2 separate regions of the Homo sapiens genome follow, and region 1 is linked to region 2. The links come from fine-mapping of genetic effects on gene expression. A gene starts in region 2. The other region holds a variant in brackets. All regions are shown on one strand. Distances are between the middles of the regions.

Evidence for each region.
Region 1: its variant is fine-mapped to the expression of SLC28A3 in whole blood (TOPMed, PIP above 0.99).

The regions. Positions count from the first base shown.
Region 1 is chr9:84,362,092-84,374,398 of GRCh38, reverse strand. It overlaps a transcript of SLC28A3 not described here. Among named protein-coding and RNA genes, the nearest start is that of SLC28A3, 27 kb to the right of the region's middle. The variant G/A (reference allele first, on the strand shown) is at 5,882.
Region 2 is chr9:84,333,646-84,345,952 of GRCh38, reverse strand. It overlaps SLC28A3 (solute carrier family 28 member 3), which reads left to right and starts at 5,195. Exons shown (of 18, transcript NM_001199633.2): 1 at 5,195-5,379. The coding sequence starts at 5,320.

The DNA.
Region 1 (12,307 bases), 28 kb before region 2:
GCAATTCATTCACTCATCACAGTGTTATTGCCCCCTTATGATGTGTAAGGAGCTGTGTGGGGAACTAAGGAGAACACAAAGACAAACGTGACATTGTCCAATTTTTCAAAGAGTTTTTAACCCAATAGAAGGAACAGACGTGTAAATATTAATAAATTGCAATAGTACAAGGCATAATGTAACCATTCACACAGGGGCTAGGAACTTGGCTCATAGTCATTCTGTGTAAACTTGGGCACGTGACCTAATGTTTCCAGGCTTCCTTTTTTTTTTTTTTTTTCTTTTTTTTTTCTTTTGAGCTGGAGTCTCACTCTGTTGCCCAGACTGGAGTGCAGTAGTACAATCTCGGCTTACTGCAACCTCTGCCTCCTGGGTTCAAGCAATTCTCTTGCCTCAGCCTCCCAAGTAGCTAGGATTACAGACACCCACCACCACACCTGGCTAATTTTTGTATTTTTAGTACAGACAGGGTTTCACCAAGTTGGCCAGGCTGGTCTCAAACTCCTGACCTCAAGTGATCCACCTGCCTCAGCCTCCCAAAGTGCTGGGATTACAGGCGTGAGCCACCACACCCAGCCTGGGCTTCACTTTTGTTATCTAGAAAATGGAATAGGCCAAGTGCCGTGGCTCACGCCTGTAATCCCATCGCTTTGGAAGACCTAGGCAGGTGGACCACGTGAGCCCAAGTTAGAGACTAGCCTGGGCAACATGGTGAAACTCCGTCTCAACAAAAAAATAGAGAGAAAGAGAGAGAGAGAGGAGAGAGGAGACAGGAAGGAAGGGAAAGGAAGGGAAGGGAAGAGAAGAGAAGGGAAGGGAAGGGAAGGGAAGGGAAGGGAAGGGAAGGGAAGGGACTTGTCTCATATCATTAATGAGAGGAATGAATGAAACATGCATATAAGGAATATGCTACAGGACCTTACCACTCAATGATGAACCATTCCTGTCATTACAAAGTACCCTGGAAATACACTGAAGGGGCCAATTCAGAACGTCTTGTGCCTTTGAGGACAAAAGATTTTACAACACTGTAGACTTGAGTTAAGGCAACCATTTGGAGACAGTACAGGGTGGGTTAAGAGAATTCCAAAGTGCTAAAGGGTCCACTGCACCCCACGATCAATCTGTAAAGGCAGTAGAAGGCCAGAGAGGACCAAGAAGGCTGTGGGTAGGAATTCAGCCACGATTCCATAGACAAGGCATTAGCTCCTAGGTCCAGCCAGAGAGCTCAGCAAACAGTCCGCTCTGAGTAAATGCGAGCATTCTCTTTTTCTAACGAAATCCTTTCCCTCTGACCCTGTATCCCTTGTATTTGAAATAAGAGCAATCTCCAGGGCTCTGCCTGTCTCTACCCCACCTGCTCAGGCACATGATGTTAACCAGGTTCTGATTAGTAGACCATTTACCATCTTAGTATTTTATTTTAATAAATATCAATATCCTCCTCTGGTCTGGCATAAATAAATCACTGCCACCTTGTTCTTCCAGCCATATAAATTCTATTTTGCACTTTTTTTTTGAGTGACAGAGGTTAAAAAAATAGAATAAAATTATGCCTTAATTATGCTGTCAAAGTTTTCTCCAACATTTATCAGGCCTACAGGGGTGGACGAGAACCAGCATGAGGCAAGGCTATGTTTTCAAAGATTTAAAGATGCATAAAATTAATCTTTCATAAGAAACAGATGTACTGTAACTAAATAGAACGAAGAGTTTTATGAAAACGACAAACCCTAACTATAACCCACCAGCAATGCTAAGTTGAAAGCTGAGAGTGTCATGAGCAAAAATAAAGATAAATTAGGGCTACTAGGGGAAACTAAAGATCTGACATCGCCTAAAACCAGGCCAGACAGGGCTTGTATTTAGAGCTCATTAGTTTTGCTTAAGCTAATCCAAAGCAGAAGGTGGCCCTAGAAGCACATAGGCCAAGAAGACATGGGTTCAGTTAGTTTACTCTCAGTACAGCAGCTGAGTGCTGATTTTAAAATGTAAATTTGGAGGCCGGGAGCAGTGGCTCATACCTGTAATCCCAGCACTTTGGGAGGCCAAGGCGGGTGGATCACTTGAGGTCAGGGATTTGAGAACGGCCTGGCCAATATGGCAAAACTCCGTCTCTACCAAAACTACGAAAATTAGCCAGGCGTGATAGAGCGTGACTGTAATCCCAGCTACTTGGAAGGCTGAGGCAGGAGAATTTCCTGAACCCAGGAGGCGGAGGTTGCAGTGAGCCGAGATCACAGCCACTGCACTCCAGTCCCGGCAGCAGAGTGGGACTCTGTCTCAAAACAAAAAAAAAAAAGTAAATTTGATCATGCCATGCCCTACAGAGTCCATCTTCATCTGACTTCATCTTCTACTCCCTCTCCCCAGCTCCTCCACCCTGACCAGGCTGCAGTACTTCTGACACAACTTCATGCTCCCACGTTAGGGCGTTTTTAACAGTTCTTGCCAGTACTTTGACCACAGATATCTTCTTGCACAACCTCAGTGAGTTCACCCTATGAATACTGAGAAATATGAGCCCTCCTGCCCCCTGGCATTTCAAAATCCCTTCCTCTACCCAACTTTTTCCTTTTTTTCCACAGCACTTACCACTTTTAGCATAATACAGTGAACCCATTTGTTATATTTGCTGTTTCTTTTCTCTCTTAAAAGTATTTTTTTAGTTTCTTTTTTAAATTTTAATTTTTAAAAAATCTATGAGGGAAGCAGAGCAAGTTGGCAGAATAAAAGGCTCCACCAATTATCCCCTCCCCAAAAAAAAAACTCCTTAAATGGGAAAACATTCCATGCTTATTCATAGGAAGAATCAATATTGTTACAATGGCCATACTGCTCATTGAATTTATAGATTTAGTGCTATTCCTATCAAACGACCAGTGATATTCTTTACAGAACTAGAAAAAACTATTTTAAAATTCATATGGGCTGGGTGCTGTGGGTCACAACTGTAATCCCAGCACTTTCGGAGGCCAAGACAGGTGATAATCTGAGGTCAGGAGTTCAAGACCAGCCTGGCCAACATAGTGAAACCCCGTCTCTACTAAAAATACAAAAATTAGCTGGGAGTGGTGGCCCACTCCTGTAATCCCAGCTACTCGGGAGGCTGAGGCAGGAGAATCGCTTGAACCCAGGAGGCAGAGGTTGCAGTGAGCCAAGATCACGCCGTTGTGCCCCAGCCTGGGTGACAAGAGTAAAACTCCATTTTGGAAAAAAAAAAAAAAATCAAAGGGTACCAAAAAAAGACCTCAAATAACCAAGGCAATTCTAAGCAAAAAGAATAAAGCTGGAGGCATCACGCTACCCAACTTCAAACTATACTACTACAAACTATACATCAGGGCTACAGTAACCAAATAGCATGGTACTTGTACAAAAACAGACAGATAGACCAATGGAACAGAATATAGAGCCCAGAAATGAGACAACACATCTACAACCATCTAATTTTCGACAAAGTCAACAAAAACAAGCACTGGGGAAAGGACTCCCTATTCAGTAAATGGTGCTAGAATAACTGGCTAGCCATGTGCGGACTATTGAAACTGGACCTCTTCCTTACACTACATACAAAAATTAACTCAAGATGAATTAAAGGCTTAAATGTGAAACTAAGAACTATAAAAACCCTGGAAGACAACCTAGACAATACCATTATGGACATAGGAACAGGCAAAAATTACATGATGAAAATGCCCAAAGCAATTGCAACAAAAGCAAAAATTGACAAACGAGATCTAATTAAACTAAAGAGCTTCTCCACAGCAAAATAAACCATCAACAGAGTAAAAAGACAACCCACAGAATGGGAGAAACATTTCGCAAACTATGCATCTGACAAAGGTCTATTATCCAGCATCTATAAGGCACTTAAATTTTACAAGAAGACAAACAACCCCATTAAACAGTGGGCAAAGGACATGAACAGACACTTTTCAAAAGAAACATATATGTGGCCAACATGCATGTGAAAAAAAGCTCAACATCACTGACCATTAGAGAAATGCAAATCAAAACCACGATGGATACCATCTCACACCAGTCAGAGTGGCTATTATTAAAAACACAAAAAGTAACAGGGGTTGGTGAAGTTGTAGAGAAAAAGGAATGCTTATACACTGTTGGTGGGTGTGTAAATTAGTTCAGCCATTGTGGAAAACAGCGTGGCAATTCCTCAAAGATCTAAAAAGAGAACTACCATTTGATGCAGCAATCCCATTTCTGGGTATATACCCAAAGAAATATAATCCTTCTATTATAAAGACACATGCACACATATGTTCATTGCAGCACTGTTAACAACAGCAAAGACATGGACTCAACCTCAATGCTCATGAATAGTAGATTGGATTAAAAAAATACAATATCTATACACCATAGCATACTATGCATCCATAAAAAAGAATGACATCATATCCTTTGCAGGAACATGGATGGAGCTGGAGGCCATTATCCTTAGCAAACTAATGCAGGAACAGAAAACCAAATACTACATGTTCTCACTTATAAGTGGGGACTAAATGATGAGAACATATGGACATAAAGAGGGGAACAACAGACACCGGGGCTTACTGGAGGGTGGAGGGCTGGAGGAAGGAGAGGATCAGGAAAAATAACAAATGGATAATAGGTTTAATACTTGGGTGATGAAATAATCTGTACAACAAACCGCTGTGACACAAGTTTACCTATATAACAAACCTGCACATTACCCCTGAACTTAAAAGTTAAAAAAAAAAGAACCAAAAAATCACATGAGCCCTCAAAGTACCCCCACCCCTCCATTCCACGCTTGACCCCAGCAGTAGCATGGTGCGGAGCGCGTCTCTGGGCACTGAGGGAGGGAGTAAACAGCAGTTGTAAGGCATTGAACTCAGTGCTGTTCTGTTAGAGCAGAAAGGAAAACTAAACCAAACTCAGCTAACACCCACCTATTGGGGGAGCATTCAAACCAGCCCTAGCCAGAGGGGAATCGCCTATTCCAGCTGTCTGAACTTGAGTTCCCACAAACCTCACCACTGAGGGCTACAGTGCTCTGGGACTCTAAAAAACCTTAAAGACAGTCTAGGCCGTAAGGGCTGCAAATCTTAGGCAAAAAAAAAAAAAAAAAAAAAGTAAATGTGATCATGCCATGCCCTACAGAGTCCATCTTCATCTGACTGCATCTTCTTTTTTTTTTTTTTTGAGACAGAGTTTTGCTCTGTCGCCCAGGCTGGAGTGCAGTGGCATGATCTTTGCTCTCTGCAACCTCCGCCCCGCTCCGGGTTCAAGCAATTCTCCTTCCTCAGCCTCTTGAGTAGCTGGGATTATAGGTGCCCAGCACCATGCCCGGCTAATTTTTGTATTTTTAGTAGAGACAGGGTTTCATCATGTTGGCCAGGCTGGTCTCAAACTCCTGACCTCAAGTGATCCACCTGCCTCGGCCTCTCAAAATGCTAGGATAACACATGTGAGCCACCACGCCTGGCATGACTTCATCTTCTACCCCCTCTCCCCAGTTCCTCCACCCTGACCAGCCTGCAGTTCTTCTGACATGACTTCATGTCCTAGGGCTGAACTGGGCCCAGAGACAGTGGACTTGGTGGGGGGGCAGGGGTGTGGCATGTGACATACTGAGACACCAGCTGGGGTGCCCCTCCTCTAACTCCAGGCTGCACAGCCCTCCGCTGCATAAGACACTCCTTCCTTCCTCTTGAGGAGAGAAGGAAGAGTGGGGAGGACTTTGTCTTGCATCTTGGATGCCAACTCAGCCACAGCAGGATAGGGCACTGGGCAGAGTTGTGAGGCCCCCATTCCAGGCCCCAGCTCCCAGATGACATTTCTAGACACACCCTGAGTCAGAAGTGAACCTGCCACCTTGAAGGAAAGGACCCAGTCC[G/A]GCCAGCATTCAGCATCTGCTAAATGAAGAGCGCTTGGGACCTGAACAACCAGCAGCGATACCCAGGTACTGTATCAGTGTGGGGGAAAAGAAGAGAGATCAGACTGTTACTGTGTCTATGTAGTAAAAGAAAGACATAAGAAACTCCATTTTGATCATATTAAGAAAAATTGTTCTGCTTTGAGATGCTGTTAACCTGTAACTTTAGCCCCAACCCTGTGCTCATAGAAACATGTGCTGTATTGAATCAAGGTTTAAGGGATTTAGGGCTGTGCAGGATGTGCTTTGTTAACAATATGTTTGCAGGCAGTATGCTTGGTAAAAGTCATCTCCATTCTCCGTCCTTTATTAACCAGGGACACGATGCACTGTGGAAAGCCACAGGGACCTCTGCCCAAGAAAGCCTGGGTATTGTCCAAGGTTTCCCCCCACTGAGACAGCCTGAGATATGGCCTCATGGGAAGAGAAAGACCTTACCATCCCCCAACCCGACACCCATAAAGGGTCTGTGCTGAGGCGGATTAGTAAGAGAGGAAGGCCTCTTTGCGGTTGAGATAAGAGGAAGGCCTCTGTTTCCCGCATGTCCCTGAGAATGGAATGTCTCCGTGTGAAGCCGACCATTCATTCTACTCTGAGATGGAGAAAACCGCCCTATGGCTGGAGGCGAGATATGCTGGCAGTGATACTGCTCTGTTACTCTTTGCTACACTGAGATGTTTGGGTAAAGAGAAACATAAATCTAGCCTACGTGCACATCCGGGCACAGTACCTTCCCTTGAACTTATTTATGATGCAGATTACTTGCTCATATGTTTTCCTGCTGACCTTCTCCCCATCATCACTCTGTTCTCCTGCCACACTCCCCTTGCCGAGATAGTAAAAAATAGAAATCAATAAATACTGAGGGAACTCAGAGACCAGCGCCGGTGCAGGTCCTCGCATGCTGAGTGTGCGGGTCCCCTGGGCCCACTGTTCTTTCTCTATGCTTTGTCTCTGTGTCTTATTTCTTTTCTCAGTCTCTCGTCTCCACCTGACGAGAAACACCCACAGGTGTGGAGGGGCAGGACCCCTTCAATCAAGGGCCTAGGGTGAGCCTCTGAAACTTGCTAGCTTCAGATACCAGCACAGCCACAAATGGGCAAAGCACCAGGCAGGCTTTTGGGGTCACATATTTCAGGACCTGGCTTGTGGATATCTCTGGACCTGCCCTGGGCCAGAGGGGAGCCCATTGCCCTGAAGGGTGAGTCCCAGGCCAGGCAGCATTCACCACCAGCTGACTTAAGAGACTTTGGGCCTTAAGAGAATATTGGCGGTAGTATGGCAGTACTTCCTGTGGAGTACTCCCCGTGGCCTGCGGTGGTGGTGGCTATGAAGTGAGGCTCCTCTGCCTTTGGAAAAGGGAGGGAAGAGTGGGAAGCACTGTGTCTTATGGTTTGAGTGCCAGCTCAGCCACAGTGCAGGTAGACTTCTAAGGTTTTCATTCTACTCCCTGAGGCCCAGACAGCACCTCTGGACCCACCAAAGGCCTGGGGGAGCTTGCTGACCTGAAGGGAAGGACACAGGCCTGACTAGCCTTGTCACCTGTTGACTGTAGAGCCCCAGGGCCTTGACAGAACATAGGCAGTAGCCAGGAAGTGGTTACAGAAGGTCTTGGGTGAGACTCAGGGCTGTGCTGGCTTCAGGGCTGACCCAGCACAGTCACAGTGGTGGTGGCCACAGAGGTGCTTGTGTCGCTCCACCCCCAGCTTTAGGTGGCTCAGAACAGAGAGAGAGATTCTGTTTGTTTGGGAGAAAGTAAGGGAAGAGAACAAGAGTCTCTGCTTGGTAATTCAAAGAATTCTCCTAGATCTTGTCCAAGACCATCAAGGAAGTACCTCTACAAGTCTGCAAGAACCACAGTGTTGCTGAGCTTGGGGTGTCCCCCAAAGCAGATATAGCTTAGATTACAACACTCTAGACCTTTCAAATATCTGGAAACCCTTCCCAAGAAGGACAGGTACTAACAAGCCCAGACAGTGAAGACTACAATAAACACTTAACTCTTCAATGCCCAGACACCAAAGAACATCTACTAGCATCAACACCATCCAGGAAAACAAGACTTCACCAAATGAACTAAATAAGCCAACATGGACCAATCCTGGAGAAACAGAGATATTTGGCCTTTCAGACAGAAAAATCAAAATAGCTGTGTTGAGGAAACTAAAAGAGATTCAAGATAACACAGAAGGGTCAGAACTCTATCAGACAAATTTAACACAGAGATTGAAATAGTTTAAAATAAGCAGAAATTCTGGAGCTGAAAAATGCAACTGGCATATTGAAGAATGCATCAGAATCTTAATAGCAGAATTGATCAAGCAGAAGAAAGAATTAGTGAGCTTGAAGCCAGGCTGTTTGAAAATACAGTCAGTTTACAGCCATACCACCCCGAATGCACCCAATCTTTTTTTTGTTTTTTTGTTTTGAGATGGAGTTTCACTCGTGTTGCCCAGGCTGGAGTGCAATGGCACGATCTTGGCTCACCACAACCTCTGCCTCCTGGGTTCAAGCAATTCTCTCACCTCAGCCTCCCAAGTAGCTGGGATTACAGGCATGTGCCACCACGCCTGGCTAATTTTGTATTTTTAGTAGAGACAGGGTTTCTCCATGTTGGTCAGGCTGGTCTCGAACTCCCAACCTCAGGTGATCCTCCCACCTCAGCCTCCCATAGTACTGGGATTACAGGTGTAAGCCACCACGCCCAGTCTTCGAGCACACCCAATCTTGTCTGAAAATATACAGAGACAGTAAAAGAATAAAAAACTGGATATCCATATGCAGAAGAATGAAACTAGAACCCTATCTCTCCCCATATACAAAAATAAATCAAAATGGATTAGACTTAAATCTATGAAACTACTACAAGAAAAGTTTGGGAAAAATCTCCAGGACATTGTTATGGGCGAAAATTTCTTGAGAAATACCCCACAAGCACAGGCAACCAAAGCAAAAGTGAACAAATGGGGTTATATCAACTTAAAAAAAACTTCTGCACAGCAAAGGAAAAATAGCAACAAAGTGAAGTTTTGCAAACTACTCATTTGACAAAGGATTATAATCAGCATATATAAGGAGCTCAAACAACTCTATAGGAAAAAAAATCTAATAATCCAATTTAAAACTAGGCAAAAAGATTTGAATAGACATTTCTCAAAAGAAGACATTTAAATGGCAAACAGGCATATGAAAAGGTGCTCAACATCACTGATCATCAGAGAAATGCAAACCAAGATTACAGTGAGATAGCATCTCACCCCAGTTATAATGGGATATATCCAAAGACAGGCAATAACAAATGCTGGTGAGAATGAAGAGAAAAGGGAACTCTTGTACACTGTTGGTAGGAATGTAAATTAGTACAGACACTCTGGAGAATAGTTTGGAGGTTCCTCAAAAATCTAAAAATAGAGCAACTATATGATCCAGCAATCCCACTGCTGGGTATATACCCAAAAGAAAGGAAGTCAGTATATTGAAGAGATACCGGCACTCACATGTTTGTTGCAGCACTGTTCACAATAGCTAAGATTTGGAAGCAACCTAAGTGTCCATCAACAGATGAATGGATAAAGAAAATGTGGTTCATATACACAATGGAATACTATTCAGCCTTAAAAAACAATGAGATTCAGTCATTTGCAACAGCATAGATGAAACTGGAGATCATTATGTTAAGTGAAATAAGCTAGGCACAGAAAGACAAACATCGCATGTTATCACTTATTTGTGGAATCTAAAAATTGAAACAATGGAATTCATGGGCATGGAGAGTAGAGCATGGTGACCAGAGGCTGGGGAGGGTAGTGGGGGTCTGCAGGGGAGGTAGGGATGGTTAATGGGTACAAAAAAAACAAAAAGAATTAAAAAGACCTACTATTTGATCACACAACAGATTGACTATAGTTAATAATTACTTAACTGTACCTTTCAAAATAACTTAAAAAAGCGTAATTGGCCAGGCACAGTGCCTCACACCTGTAATCCCAACACTTTGGGAGGTGAAGGCAGGAGGATCACTTGAGGCCAAGAGTTCAAGACCAGGCTGGGCAACATAGCAAGACCTTGTCTTTACAAAACAAAGGTCAGGCGTGGTGACTCATGCCTGTAATCCCAGCATTTGGGAGGCTGAGGTGAGTGGATCACCTGCCAACACGGCGAAACCCCATCTCTACTGAAAAAATACAAAAATTAGCCGGGCATCAAGGGTGCATGCCTATAAGCCACTCGGGAGGCTGAGGCAGGAGAATTGCTTGAACCTGGCAAGCAGAGGTTGAAGTGAGCCGAGATCGTGCCATTGCACTCCAGCTTTGGTAACAGAGCAAGACGCCATCTCAAAAAAAAAAAAAAAAAAAAAAGAGTGTAACTGGATTTTTTGTAACACAAAGGATAAATGCTTGAGGGGATGAATAGCCTATTTTCCATGATGTGATTATTACATATTGCATGCCTGTATCAAAACATCTCATGTACCCCATAAATATATACACCTACTATGCACCCACAAAAATTAAAGATAAATTTTTTTAAATCTATGAAAAAAGATAATTTTAAAAATCAAAGACAAACTTTGGTCAGTATGGAAATCAGGCCAGTCTTGGTGGCTTAAGCCTGTAATCCCATCGCTTTGAGAAACCAAAGCAGGAGGATCATTTGAGCCCAAGGGTTCAAGACCAGCCTGGGCAACATAGTGAGACCCCCATCTCTACAAAAATAAACAAATGTTAATCACATGTGCAATTTATTGGAAACACAGTGGGACATGGGTATCCCAACTTCCCATTCTGACTCAGAATGTCTGGGGTGGGGCACAGCCATCTTTTATCTTTTTCTCTGTTAGCAAAACACTTAGATGATTCTGATAAATGCCCTAATCCCATCTACTAGTGAAACTAATAATAATATGGATGTGACAGGATTCAATTCGTGAATATTGAGTGCCTGGCACAGAGGAAGTGATCATTATTTCTGTATTCCCAGCCCTAGAGCACCTTGCTTGCTGTACCGTTTTGGTTGAAAAATAGTAGCTGAATGAACAATGGGAATAGTCCAGTAAAGAGGAATCTTAGTCATCAGTGTACATAATAAATACTTGAAGGTTATGAAGAATACAGATCCTTGATTCCTTCCCATAGACATTTTCCTGCCTTGACTTATTGATTTCTCCCCTCTTGGTTCCTCTCCTACATCACTGCCTGTGCCTTCTCAGTCTCTTTTAAGCTCCTGTACCTTCGTTCAATCTCCTAATATAAGAACATCCCAGATTAGTCCTAGGGACCCTTGTTCTTCTTTATTTACATACTAGTAGATTTCATCATGTTCCATAGCTTTAAATATCATTTAAGGGTTTATGAACTTGAATGGGAAAAAATATTCTATCTTCACTAATCTCTATCTGAAAGTTAATATTTCTTTCATTCGTAAATAAAGCAATGGTACTGTCATATCTGGAGCTCTGTCACCATTCACGAACATGTTCATATTACATTACAGTTATTCCAGACATCCAAAAATATTTTTATCTTTTTTACTACTTGCAAATATGTTAGTTATTAGATTTATAAATCTGTTATTTAATGTATTAATACAAGAGTTATTATATTACTTTATCACAATTTTTTAATACCTACTTATATTTTAATGCAGTTTTCCTTTGCAATCTTATGTATTTTATTTTATGCACTTAAAAGCATCATTCTGAGAAGAGGGCTGTAGGCTTCACCAGACTGCCAAAGCGGTCCATGGCATTTAAAAAGTTCATCACCTTTGATTTAAATGACAATCAGTCCTAAATTTATTTATTTATTTATTTATTTATTAACTTATTTATTTTAATTTTTTTTTTTTAAACAGAGTCTCACTCTGTCACCCAGGCTATAAGGGCAGTGGCCCGATCTCGGCTCACTGCAATCTCCGCCTCCCAGGTTCAAGCAATTCTCTTGCCTCAGCCTCCCAAGTAGCTGGGACTACAGGCATGCACCACCACACCTGGCTAATTTTTGTATTTTTAGTAGAGACAGGGTTTCACCATGTTGGCCAGGCTGATCTTCAACCCCTTACCTCAGGCAATCTGCCCACCTCAGCTTCCCAAAGTGCTGGGATTACAGGTGTGAGCCACAACGCCTGGCCAAGTCCTAAATTTCTATCTTTAGCTCTGACTTTATTATAGCTCCAGCCTCCTTGGCATCTCCACTTGTGTGTCCAGTAGCATCTCAATATTAACAGATGAAGCCCTGGGGCTCTCCCCCAGACTTGCCCCTTTCCCAGTCTCTGCCTCATTATCAGCCTCCCAATTGTTAAAGTTCGAACTCTAGATCCAAGTTACTGCATTCCACTTTCACTCACCTTCAGAACAGCATCTGAAATTCTCTAGTCAACAAGTTTTAG
Region 2 (12,307 bases):
TGATCACAATTTCTATTTCCTAATTGGACAAAATGAGCCATAGCTTCTACCAAGGTGTTACCACTTTAAGTGATAGCCCCATAAATCAAACTAATTCTGGTGCTGCAAGGAGTCAGAATTTTTACTGGTTCTGAAAGCTCCTTAAAGATAGGCTTCAGAAACATACAATTTTAAATTACAAGTTCTCTGGATATGACCATTGTTTTGGCATTTTAGTATCATGGTTGTATATACAATTTACTCTAATTAGGTGTCAATTTTTCCTGCTGGCAGGTACAGTTGGAGAATGGATGAGGGAGGTCACTGTATCTTTTAATCAACACTGTCTAGTGTTGTGACTTGCACAATGATATGCTCCCCCAAATGTTGTTGCATTCTTTTCAAATTTTGTCTGCAGCCAAGGAGAAGAAAACACATCGTTACATTTCTAAAAGTTCCTAAAGCAGTGTCTGCAAGAATGTCAGGCATTGGAGTCACGTTTCTGCAATTAGAGGCTTTAAATGATAGAATGAAGATGTCTGTCTTTTGCTTCAGAAAGTAAGGATCATCCATAACCTTCAACTAGATTGAGTCTTGAGTTGGTGAAGGTTTTAATATCAGGTTGCACCAACTGGTTTCTTCCAACTAACGATTTCTCAAGGAAAGTTTCCCAAATATTTGCTGTCTATTTATCTGTACTTCTCTTGCTCACTTCCACTTGGATTTTTTTTTTTTTGCCTTTGGTAACACAATGACTACTACTTATGGCACATTGCAATGATGGGGAAGAACTAATGAAAATCCCCAAGTCTCATCAATAAGAAGCACGAAAGAGCTAAATCATAAAATTTGGGTGATGTTGAATTATGTGTCAGGCACTATTCCCTGTGTATATTAACTCATTTTATCATCTCAGCACTGTTTCTAAATGGGTATGTCGATGAAAAGAGTTGAACTCTGTTAAATATTTGAAGACATTTATTCTGAGCCAAATATGAGTGATCATGGCCCATGACACAACCCTTGGGAGGCCCTAAGAACATTTGCCCAAGGTGGTCAGGGCACAGCTTGGTTTTATACATTTTAAAAAGGCATGGGACATCAATCAAATACATTTAAGAAATACATTGGTTTGGTCCAGAAAGGCAGGACAACTCAAAGCAAGGGGAGGAGGGGGTTGGGCTTCCAGGCTATAGGGGAATTTAAACATTTTCTGGTTGACAATTGGTTGAGTTTGTCTCAAGACCTGGGATTCATAGAAAGGGAATATTCAGGCTAAGATAAAGATTGTGGAAACCAAAGTTCTTCTGAAGTTTTATAGTGGCTGCCCTTAGAGACAAAGGATGACAATGTTTCCTTTTCAAAATATGTCAAAGAAACATGTTTTGGGGTAAAATATTTTTATTTTCTTCCTTGTCTCATAATGTTATGCGAGTCAGGTTTGAAAGTAAGTCATGATATATAGGGTTAAATAAAACCCATCTGGGCCGGGTGCGGTGGCTCACACCTGTAATCCCAGCACTTTGGGAGGGCAAGGCAGGTGGATCACTTGAGATCAGGAGTTCAAGACCAGCCTGGCCAACATGGTGAAATTCTGTTTCTACTAAAAATGTAAAAATTAGCCAGGCATGGTGGCACACGCCTGTAGTCTCAGCTACTCGGGAGACTGAGGCAGGAGAATCACTTGAACCCGGAAGTCGGAGGTTGCAGTAAGCTGAGATCTGCCACTGCACTCCAGCCTGGGCAACAGAGCAAGACTCTGTCTGACCAAAAAAAAAAAAAAAAAAACCCATATGATGAGAATTTATGATTTGTAGGGCATGACTCCCCAGACCCCTTAGATCATAATTTGGGCAAGATAAAAAAAAAATCAGAGCTTAGTCCTCAGGTACTGTTATCTCCGTTTTATGAAGGAAGAATCTGAGATACAGAGAACTCAGCTACTTGCCCAAATTCCCATGGCCAGTAAGTCTTCCCACCTCAGCCTCCCAAGTAGCTGGGACTACAGGCACGTACCACCACACCTGGCTAATTGTTGTATTTTTTGTAGAGACGGGGTCTTCCTACATTGCCCAGACTGATCTCAAACTTCTGGGCTCAAGCGATTCTCCCATCTTGGCTTCCCAAAGTGTTGGGATTATAGGCATCAGCCAGGTAGTGGATATTTTGTCTTTGAGCCGTGTGGTATTTGTCACAGCTACTCAATTCTGTCCTTATGGGATGATAGCAGCCTTAGACAATACATAAATCAATGGCCATGTTTCTGTTTTTACAAAACTTTATTTATAGACACTGAAGTTTGAATTTCATATAACTTTAATGTGTCAGGAAATATTCTTCCTTTTAATTTTTTTCAACCATTTAAAAATCTAAAACCCATTCTTAGCTCTTGGGCCATATAAAAGCAGCAGAAGGTTAGGTGTGACCCTCAAGCTGTGGTTGGCTGTAGTTATGAGGTAGAGTCCAGGATTTGAACCCAGACCACAGGTTCCTGCAAGCCTTTAATCATTATGTATACACTGTACAGTCTGTATCATGATAACAAGAAAAGAAAAATAACTCCCACAGTCTGAGCTATGTGAGATATGCAAAATCTATCAGGCCCAGAGAGACTGGGCCTCAGTCACTGATAAAGAGAAAACAAAAATAACTCACACAGTCCCAGCTATGTGAGCAATGCAAAATCTATCAGGCCCAGAGAAACGGAGGGTTGGACTTCAGTCACCACTCAACCCTGTGCCCGGGGGCAATTTTTTTTTGCTTTTGTTTTTTGTCTTTTGTTTTTTTTTTGAGATGGAGTCTTGCTCTGTCACCCAGTCTGGAGTGCGGTGGCGTGATCTCGACTCACCACAACCTCCACTCGACTCACCACAACCTCCACCTCCTGGGTTCAAGCAATTCTCCTGCCACAGCCTCCCAAGTAGCTGGGACTACAGGCATGTGCCACCATGCCTGGCTAATTTTTGTAGTATTTAGAAGAGACAGGGTTTCACCATGTTGGCCAGGCTGGTCTCGAATTCCTGACTTCATGATCCATCTGCCTCGGCCTCCCAAAGTGCTGGGATTATAGGCGGGAGCCACTGTGCCTGGCCAGGGGCAATTGTTTTAAAGGAATTTTGTTCCTGACTGGCTGCCTTTCTGTTCCTAGAATGTGTGATACAAATAGCAATGTATAGCCAATCAATAGCTTATGTTATTTTAATGTAAATAATTGGTAAACAACTCAGAAACTCCTTCTTTTCCTTTAAAATTCACTTGTGGCCAGGCACAGTGCCTGTAATCCCAGCACTTTTGGAAACCAAGGCAGGTGGGAAGATTGCTTGAGCCCAGGAGTTCAAGACAAGTCTGGGCAACATAGTGAGGCCCCCAGTTCTACCAAAAAAAAAAAAAAAATTTAGCCATGGGTGATGGCACCTGTCTGTAGTCCCAGCTACTCGGGAGGCTGAGACAGGAGGATAGCTTCAGCCCAGGAGGTCAAGGTTGCAGCAAGCCATGATCATGCACTCCAGCCTGGGCAACAGAACACACACACACACACACAAGAATCTACTTGTAACTGCTACTAAGTGTATATTCAGAGCAACTTGAATATGTGCTCCCAAGTTGCAATCTCAAACTTAGACCAAATAAACTCTATACTTACATTAAGTTTGTCTCCGTTTTTTCCTTTAGGTTAACAATAATAAAAGTAAATCATTCTCTTTATAGAAAACTCAGCAGCATTTGAAGGAGAAAAAAAAAACACCAACTGCCCATAAAATTAAAAACCGAGAAATAACCACTCATAATACTTGGTATTTTCTTACTTTTTCTTTTTCTTTTTCTTTTCTTTTTTTTTTTTTTTTTGAGACAGGGTCTCACTCTGTCATCCAGATGGGAGGCAGCGGTGCGTTTTCGGCTCACTGCAATCTGTGTCTCCTGGGTTCAAGCGATTCTCCCGCCTCAGCCTCCCGAGTAGCTGGGACTACAGGCGCACGTTATCACTCCTGGCTAATTTTTGTATTTTTAGTAGAGATGGAGTTTCGCCATGTTGGCCAGGCTGGTCTTGAACTCCTGGCCTAAAGTGATCCACCCGCCTTGGGCTCCCAAAGTGCTGGGATTACAGGCGTGAGCCACCGCACCAGGCCTTTTCCATTCTTTTGTCCACAGTTTTGCAGTATTTTAAATTGTACTAGGGGGGAAAATCCCTATTTTAAAAGAATTCTACAGCTAATATTTTCATAAAGCAAAGTGAATTGCTTTATGAAAACAAAGCACTTCTATTCACTTTTGATAATTGAATAGCTGGTCACCTTTCATTTACTTGTCACATATCGGCATTTCTGTAAGCTGGATTTTTGAAAGCAGCCCAGTCTGAAGCAGGGATGTAATAAAAGGTTTTGGAATTAACCAAACTTGAATTTGAATTCTCATTATCCCTTTATTAGCTAAATGACACTAAACAAATTGTTAACTTTTCTGTACTTCAGTATAGAATTTTGAGTTGTTCGGAAGAAGAGCCAAGACCCTTACCTACCTACCTATCTGTCTATGTATCTATCCATCTATCCATCCCTGGTATACAGTAGGTGATCACTGAGGGCGGCATGACCTTATATCCTGTGTTCACTCACCCTCCACCCCACCACCACTCCTAGTCTTTAACACCACCCACAGGAAAACAGAGGATTTCACTAAGCACTATAGAGAACGTGTCCTTTTCTGGCTGGGCACGGTGGCTCATGCCTGTAATCCCAGCAATTTAGGAGGCCAAGGCAGGTGGATCACTTGAGGTCAGGAGTTCAAGAACAGCCTGGCCAACATGGTGAAACCCCGTCTCTACTAAAAATAAAGTCAGCCAGGTGTGGTGGCATGCACCTGTAATCCCAGCTACTTGAGAGGCTGAGGCAGGAGAATTGCTTGAACCTGGGAGGCAGAGGTTGCAGTGAACCGAGATTGCGTCACTGCACTCCAGCCTTTTTTTTTTTGAGACTCCATCTCAAAAAAAAAAAGAAAGAAAGAAAGAAAAAGAAAGTGTCCTTTTCTGTTTTGTGCACCACAAGAGTTTTCTCCCCAGGAGTGCAAATAGGATGCCAAAAATGGGGATAAAGGAAAAGATTAATAAGGTGGGCGGGCCAGCACTAGATGCCTCCACCCCGCCAACCCGCCCGCCTCTCTGCCCCACCCCAACCAGGTGTCAGCCCTAGTCATTCAGGAGATTATTGCAGAAGTTTCCAAACTGAAGCAAGCTGTGCCCAGGTCCCTGTAACAGCAGGTGGCTTTCTGACATCAGCAGAGACTGGTGCTTTTTCCCAGGTACAAAGGACCTCCAGACCAGAGCCAGCCAGCAGCAAAAAGAGCATGGAGCTGAGGAGTACAGCAGCCCCCAGAGCTGAGGGCTACAGCAACGTGGGCTTCCAGGTGAGCAGAGCTTTCCTCTTATGTTAAAGGCCTTCAGTGGAAAAGCTGCCCTTTCCTTAGCCCCTTGGCAAGTTTCTTACCTAAGCAGGGAGATTATCAGGACAATACGATTTTTAACGGCACACTTTAAGCCCATTATTTTTTCTTCTTGGGCTCTTCTGGGTTGACAAACCTGAAAAGTCTCTTTTAATCGATGTGTTGTGATCCCTATGGTCACTTAGAAACAAGACAGCCTTCTTCTCTTGCCTTTTTTCCCTTCTGGCTCACAGCAGGGGTCCATTATTTATCTTCAGGCACTTTTCCAAAGAACTGGTGAGAAGGGAAAAATGGGGGAATTTAGATCCTGGCTGGGGTAGTGTCTCAGGGTTCCTTTTACTCAAGCCAAGTCCTGGAGCCCCTGTCAGATGGCCCCGGTACCTGCCCCAGAGCAGCTGGATTACGCAAATCAGTCTCACTTCATCAACCAAAACTCACTGAGTGATTAATGCTGCTCAGCCCGAGGCTGGGTGCCCGCAGAGACATAGAAGGAGACCTGTCAGAAACACCAGGCTATTTTGACTGGGTCTGGGATGGGGATTTCCAGGGCTGTTTTTAGGTGTGCTTCCTTTCCTTAGCTGACACTCAGCATGGGCGCTCTGGAGAAGATGGGAAGCCTGCACCGGCAAGTGTCAACAATCCCTTGGACTTTACGGTCTGCTAGATGGGCAAAACAAAACTTTGAGGTGCTAGCCAAGAAAGGAAAGAGGGAGGTAAAAGGGCTTTGACAGGAGTTCAGACTCCAGCACCCACAAATTCCTGTAACTTCCCAGAGCCCAAGTTTGATCATCTGTCCCATGGTCACAGTGATGCCCATCTCCATGAGTAGGCATCGGGTTACCACTTATAGGTCACAAGTGTAGGAGAGGAAACAACTTCATCTACCCTCTTAGGTTGAGTGCCTGAGGCCTGCAAATTAAACCAACATAAAACAGATTAGCAGGAGAAAAGGCACGCAAATTTTATTCATATTTAAAATCTCACATGTGGCTGGCAGTGGTGCCTCATGCCTGTAATCCTAGCACTTTGGGAGGCTGAGGCGGGCTGATCATTTGAGGTCAGGAATTTGAGACCAGCCTGGCCAACATAGTGAAACCCCATCTCTACTAAAAATACAAAAATCAGCCGGGCATGGTGGTACATGCCTGTAGTCCCAGCTACTCGGGAGGCCGAGGCAGGAGAATCACTTGAATCTGGGAGGCAGAGGCTGCAGTGAGCCAAGATCGTGCCTCTGTACTCCAGCCTGGTTGACAGAGGGAGACTCAGTCTCAAAAAAATAATAATAATAAAATAAAATCTCACATGTATGAGAGCCTCACATAAAAGAAACGGAAAAACCTAATAGACTCAGGAGCTTATATACCATTAAAACAAAGCACGGCAAATAGTGAAATGACTAGACAAAGGAAAAGAGGGTTATGCTTTTAGGGACAATAAAGTGGGGGTGGGAGGTGGAAATAATGGAAGATAAGGGTTAATTTATCGAGGTTTGTTCATGCAGATTTATCTCAGCGGCATCTCTGTCTTTGGTGATAAGGGTTGCTCTCTTCCTTGTATGAGCAAGCGGGACACCTGTGCAAGGGAAATATCAATAAATGTGCTGCTTTTAGGAAGATGGGGGATGGGGGAGGGCAGAGAGCTCTTTCTGTGTCTGCTTTCTTTTTCATAGCCTTCAGTTCAAAATATTCTTGTGCCAAAATGTGGGCATTTGGAGGGTGGCACATCCTGATCTCTTCTCTAAGGGCTAAGTGAGGGGGAAAAGCATAAAGCATGGGCCCATTCTGATTCCAGAGAATGGAAAGGATGGAATTGGATAGAGTCAGAGGAAGTATGGCAGCAAGAAAATATATCTGCAATAGAGAAGGTCCATGTCACAGCAACTGGCTGCTCCCAGGGAGGAGGGCACACAACGGTGGTGATCCCTCACTGTCTTCTAGCAAAACTGCTGTTTTGTGGGGGAAACATCCCCCTACACCTGCCCCAATAAAAAGAAGGAAAAATGAAAGGAAGCTTCCTCCTAGTTCTGTAAAATTTCCTGTCATCCTTACTCATTGGATTGATTGAAATTTGAATTTCTACATTTCAAAATCAAAATAGTGAAGACAATTTGTCTTTCAAGAGAATCAGAGGCCTCATAACTCCTGCCAAGTTAATAAGTATGAGTCTTACCTTGTTTGACATTCAGCTCTCCTGCTACATTATCTTCTTTAAGGAAAATTAATTGATTGTAAAATATGTGCTACTTCACTCGCATTATTAAATATGCATTAACATGCCACCAGGACTTCCAAATAAGTTAGGATGCTTACTTATTCACCTTGTCCTAGTCTGTGAATTGTGCTAGAAATTCATTTTTCTTCTTCAAATATTAAGAGTGCCCTTGGTAGACCAAAGTTCTAATTTTACTAAGTAGAACTACTTTCACAGCTTGAAATGCTGATATGGGTTCCCAAAAGGCCTGTGCCTGTAAGACCTGGTGCAGGTGCAATGGTTATGCATATCTATGGATTACCTGGACAGGCTCTCATCTGGACTGTTCCTCAAAGAAGGGAGCACCAATTGCTGTTTTCATGGAGCTAGTACTCCAGTGGGAAAGGTTAAACAGGAGCACAAAGTCAGTGATATGGGTTATAAGAGAGAAATGATCTCACCTCCAAGAAAGGATTTCACAGCTAGAGCACACTTCATACATGAGAGTGGATTTTGTAACCAACGATAGAAATGAATGTTAGGGTTTTTTTTTTCTAATCTCATTTTATTGTACCTCTAAACGTTTTCTATGAATAAGGAACTTATTTCTCATATGGCTGAGGATGGAAATGACTTCATTCAACAGTAGTTGCAAATAAGACGTTTGCTATTTATGAAGGAAGTTCGGATTGGCATTTAAAGTATTGCGTGTATGTGGAATATCTAAGGATTTCTTATTTTATTTTAAAATATTTTTTAAACCTTAAAACAGTCAGCAAACTGGCTCTTGATTTTGTGCAAGATGTTCCCATCAGTTCAGGAAAAATAACTGCCTGAAAGGACAAAGTACACACACACACGTGTGCAAACACTCACACCCACATACGCATACACACACGCGCGCGCACACACACAGGCTAGCATCCCCAGGCCTCAAGGTTCTAAGCAGGGCATCTCAAACCCAGCAGAGTATCATACCAACAACACCCACACCTAAAAACAGTGACTGGGTTATTTCTATTTATTCAGTAGAATCATCAACTGCCCCCTAGATATGGCCGCCTCTAAGAAGGGATACCAACTCAAGAAAGAATAATATGCTCTTCTTGCCCTCAAGGAGAAGGACAGGCAGAAATAAGCATGCAATTACAATATAATTGATGTTAAGGAAAATGGCGGAGGTTTGCACCAAGTGCATTGTATTCTTATATTTATTATTTTTTATATTTTGTCTTGCTATCTTACCAGGGCTGGTCTGAAACCCTGGCCTCAAGCAATCCTCCTGCTTTGGCCTTCCAAAGTGCTGGGATTACAGTCATGAGCCACAACACCCAGCCAGCACCAAGTGCATTGTAAATAATATATAGCTGGAGCTGAGCTGACTGAGGAGTCTGTGACAGCATCACCAAAGGAGGGAGAATTTGATTAGGGCTTTAAGGATGGTCAGGTCACAGTAGGAGGTGGGGTGGGCAGAGCACTGCAAGCAGAGAGAACTATCTGTACAGACTCAGAACCCTAAAGGAGAAGAGCACATGAGCCTGGGATGGAGGAAGGGAACACGGTATAGGGAAAGGGGGCAGGCTGGCATCAGGTCAGGTGGCCTCTGCGTGTGCTAAGGCATTTTAGAAGGAATCGCTCAGAATTTACGCAGTCAAATTGTGATTTTTTTTTTGAGACAGGGTCTCACTCTGTCACCCATGCTGGAGTGCTATGGTATGATCTCAGCTCACTGCAGCCTCAACCTCCCAGGCTCAAGCAATCCTCCCACCTCAGCCTCCTGAGTAGCTAGGACTACAGACATGCGCCACCACACTTGGCTAGTCTTTGTTTTGTTTTGTGTTTTAGAGATGAAGTCTCACCCTGTCGCCCAGACTGGAGTGCAGTGGCATGATCTTGGCTCACTGCAACCTCCACCTCCTGGGTTCAAGCAATTCTCCTGTCTCAGCCTCCTGAGTAGCTGAGTTTACAGGCATATGCCACCACACCTGGCTACTTTTTTTGTATTTTTAGTAGAGACAGGGTTTCACAACGTTGGTCAGGCTGGTCTCAAACTCCTGACCTCAAATGATCCGCCTGCCTCAGCCTCCCAAAGTGCTGGGATTACAGGCGTGAGCCACCGTGCCCGACCTAATTCTTGTATTTTTTTGTAGAAATCGGGTTTCACCATGTTGCCCAGGCTGATCTCAAACTCCTGAGCTCAAGTGATCTGCCTGCTTCAGCCTTCCAAAGTGCTGGGATTACAGGTGTGAGCCAACTGCACCAGGCTGATTTTTTTTTTTTTAATATTACTTTGGTGGCCCCATTGAAAGTGCTTGGAAAAGGAGAGGGATTTGTGTGTGGCTGGGACATCCGTTGGGAAGTTACTGTCATAATCCAAACCAGGCTAAAGGCAGTGGATGCAGACACTGGGACGGAGGTACTAATACTGATGAGGTGACCCCTCCACAATGAAATTCAGGAGTAAAGATGAGGGCCTAAATGCTGCTCTGGCTCTGAAGATTTCTGTTTTCTCCTCTGTAAAAGAGCATAATAATGGTACCTATCTTGGGATTGTTGAAATAATTAAATAAGCTAATATTATATATGTATAATGGACATTTTATACACACACACACACACACACACACACACACACGTATATACATACTTGTGAAAACAGTGCCTGGCACATAGTATGAACATAACAATAGCAGCTTTTGATGCTGAGCAGCTTAAGGAAAGTGTGGAGTCAATGTTTCCAGCTTGGGATGTCAACTTGGAAGTGATTCCCTTTGTTTATTTATTGCTGTTGTTTTAAATAGAGACAGGGCTTCACTCTGTCACCCACGCTGAAGTGCAGTGGCACAATCATAGCTTATTGCAGCCTCAAACTCCTGAGCCCAGGCAATCCTTTGACCTCAGCCTCCTGAGTAGCTGGGACTACAGGCACGTGCTACCACAACTGGCTAAGTTTTTTTATTTTTTATATTTGTAGAGACAGGGTCTTGCTATGTTGCCCAGGCTGGCCTCTAGTGATCCTCCCATCTCTTCCTGGGTTTCCCAAAGTGCTGAGATTACAGGTGTGAGCCACCTCACCCAGCCTCGGGCAAGGCTTTATTTAGGTAGAAAATCTAGGAATAAAGTTAGAGCAAAAAAGAGAGTGAGTTCTCTTTGAGGCCTGTTGGTTGAAATTAAGTTGACTCCAGGCATCTTCATGAAGGGGTAGATGAAGTAGGAAGCTTGTAGCATACGTTCACCTGGAGCTCAGAAGAGGACACACATTTGGGAGCTGTTAGCATAGATATGAGCGCGGATAAGACCACTGTGAGGGAAGCCTGGGAAACAGTAGCGCTTAAGGAGTGGGGAAGTTAGAGATGTCAGAGAATGAAGCAGAGGGCCACAGGGAGAGAAAGAGCAGCAGAACCAGGAGAGGGGCGATCTGGAGAAGTCAAGGGAAAGTAGAACCACAAGTCAACAGAAAAGACTCCGAAAGGACAGAGGAGTCTATAGAGTGAGGCCACGGGTTCACTTGACTTGCCAGCTAGGAGGTTACTGGTGACGCTAGGGTTGGGGAAGGAGGAGAAGTTTGTGTTATGAGCGGGAGTTAGGCTAGGAAAAATGGTAGCAGAATGAACGCTCTTCTGGTGCAGTGGTGGTGCTAGGGAGGGGCGGGGAAGGGGAAGACCTAGGGCAGGCAAAGGCAGTTGTGGGGAGGTGTTTTTATGTTAAAAAAAAAAAAATTCGTTGTGAAATACAACATACAGAAAAATACATAAAAACAAATATACAACTTATAAGGCGAACTGTCACTCAGGTCAAGAAACAGGATATTGCCATCCCTCAGGGTCCAGCCCTACACATTTCATCACTGCTGCCTCCCTTCCCTGGGGTAAACCCAACCAGGGGTGACTACTGACCCAAATGTGGGGCAATTACTTCCTTGCTTTTCTTTATACCTTAACTTCTAATTATGAATCCCCAAGCAGTACCTTTGCCTGGTTTTGAACTTTATATAATAGAAACACAAAATGTATTCTTTGCTTATATTGAAACTTTTTTTTTGTTTTTTTGAGACAGAGTCTCGCTCTGTTGCCCAGGCTAGAGTGCAGTGGCGTGATCTTGGCTCACTGCAACCTCTGCCTCCCCAGTTCAAGCGATTCTCCTGCTTCAGCCTCCTGAGTAGCTGGGAATACAGGCATGAGCCACCAGGCCCGGCTTGTATTTTTAGTAGAGACGGGGTTTCACCCTGTTGGCCAGGCTGGTCTCAAACTCCTGACCTCACGTGATCCACCCGCCTTGGCCTCCCAAAGTGTTGGGATTACAGGCGTGAGCCACCATGCCTGGCCATCAGCTCTCTAAGATTCACATGGTGTTGCATGTAACTGCAGCTCATCCCATTTCATAATGCACAGGATTCTGCCATGTAAATATTCCACAACTTATACATTTTGCTGCTAGTGGACATTTGCGTTATTAAGTTTGGGGTTTTTGGAGCTTCTACAAACATTGCAGCTAGGGACACTGTTATCCATGCCAGGGGGAGTATCTGTAATAAATTTACTCTGGGGTTGTACTTAGGAGTGGAATTGCTAGGCCACTGGAATAAACATATACTTTCAACTTTGCTGATAGTGTCAGATTGGTTTCCTAAGTGATTTTACCAATTTGCATGCCTATCAGCAGAGTGAGTATTCCCATTTCTCATCATTATTCAGCTGACCTT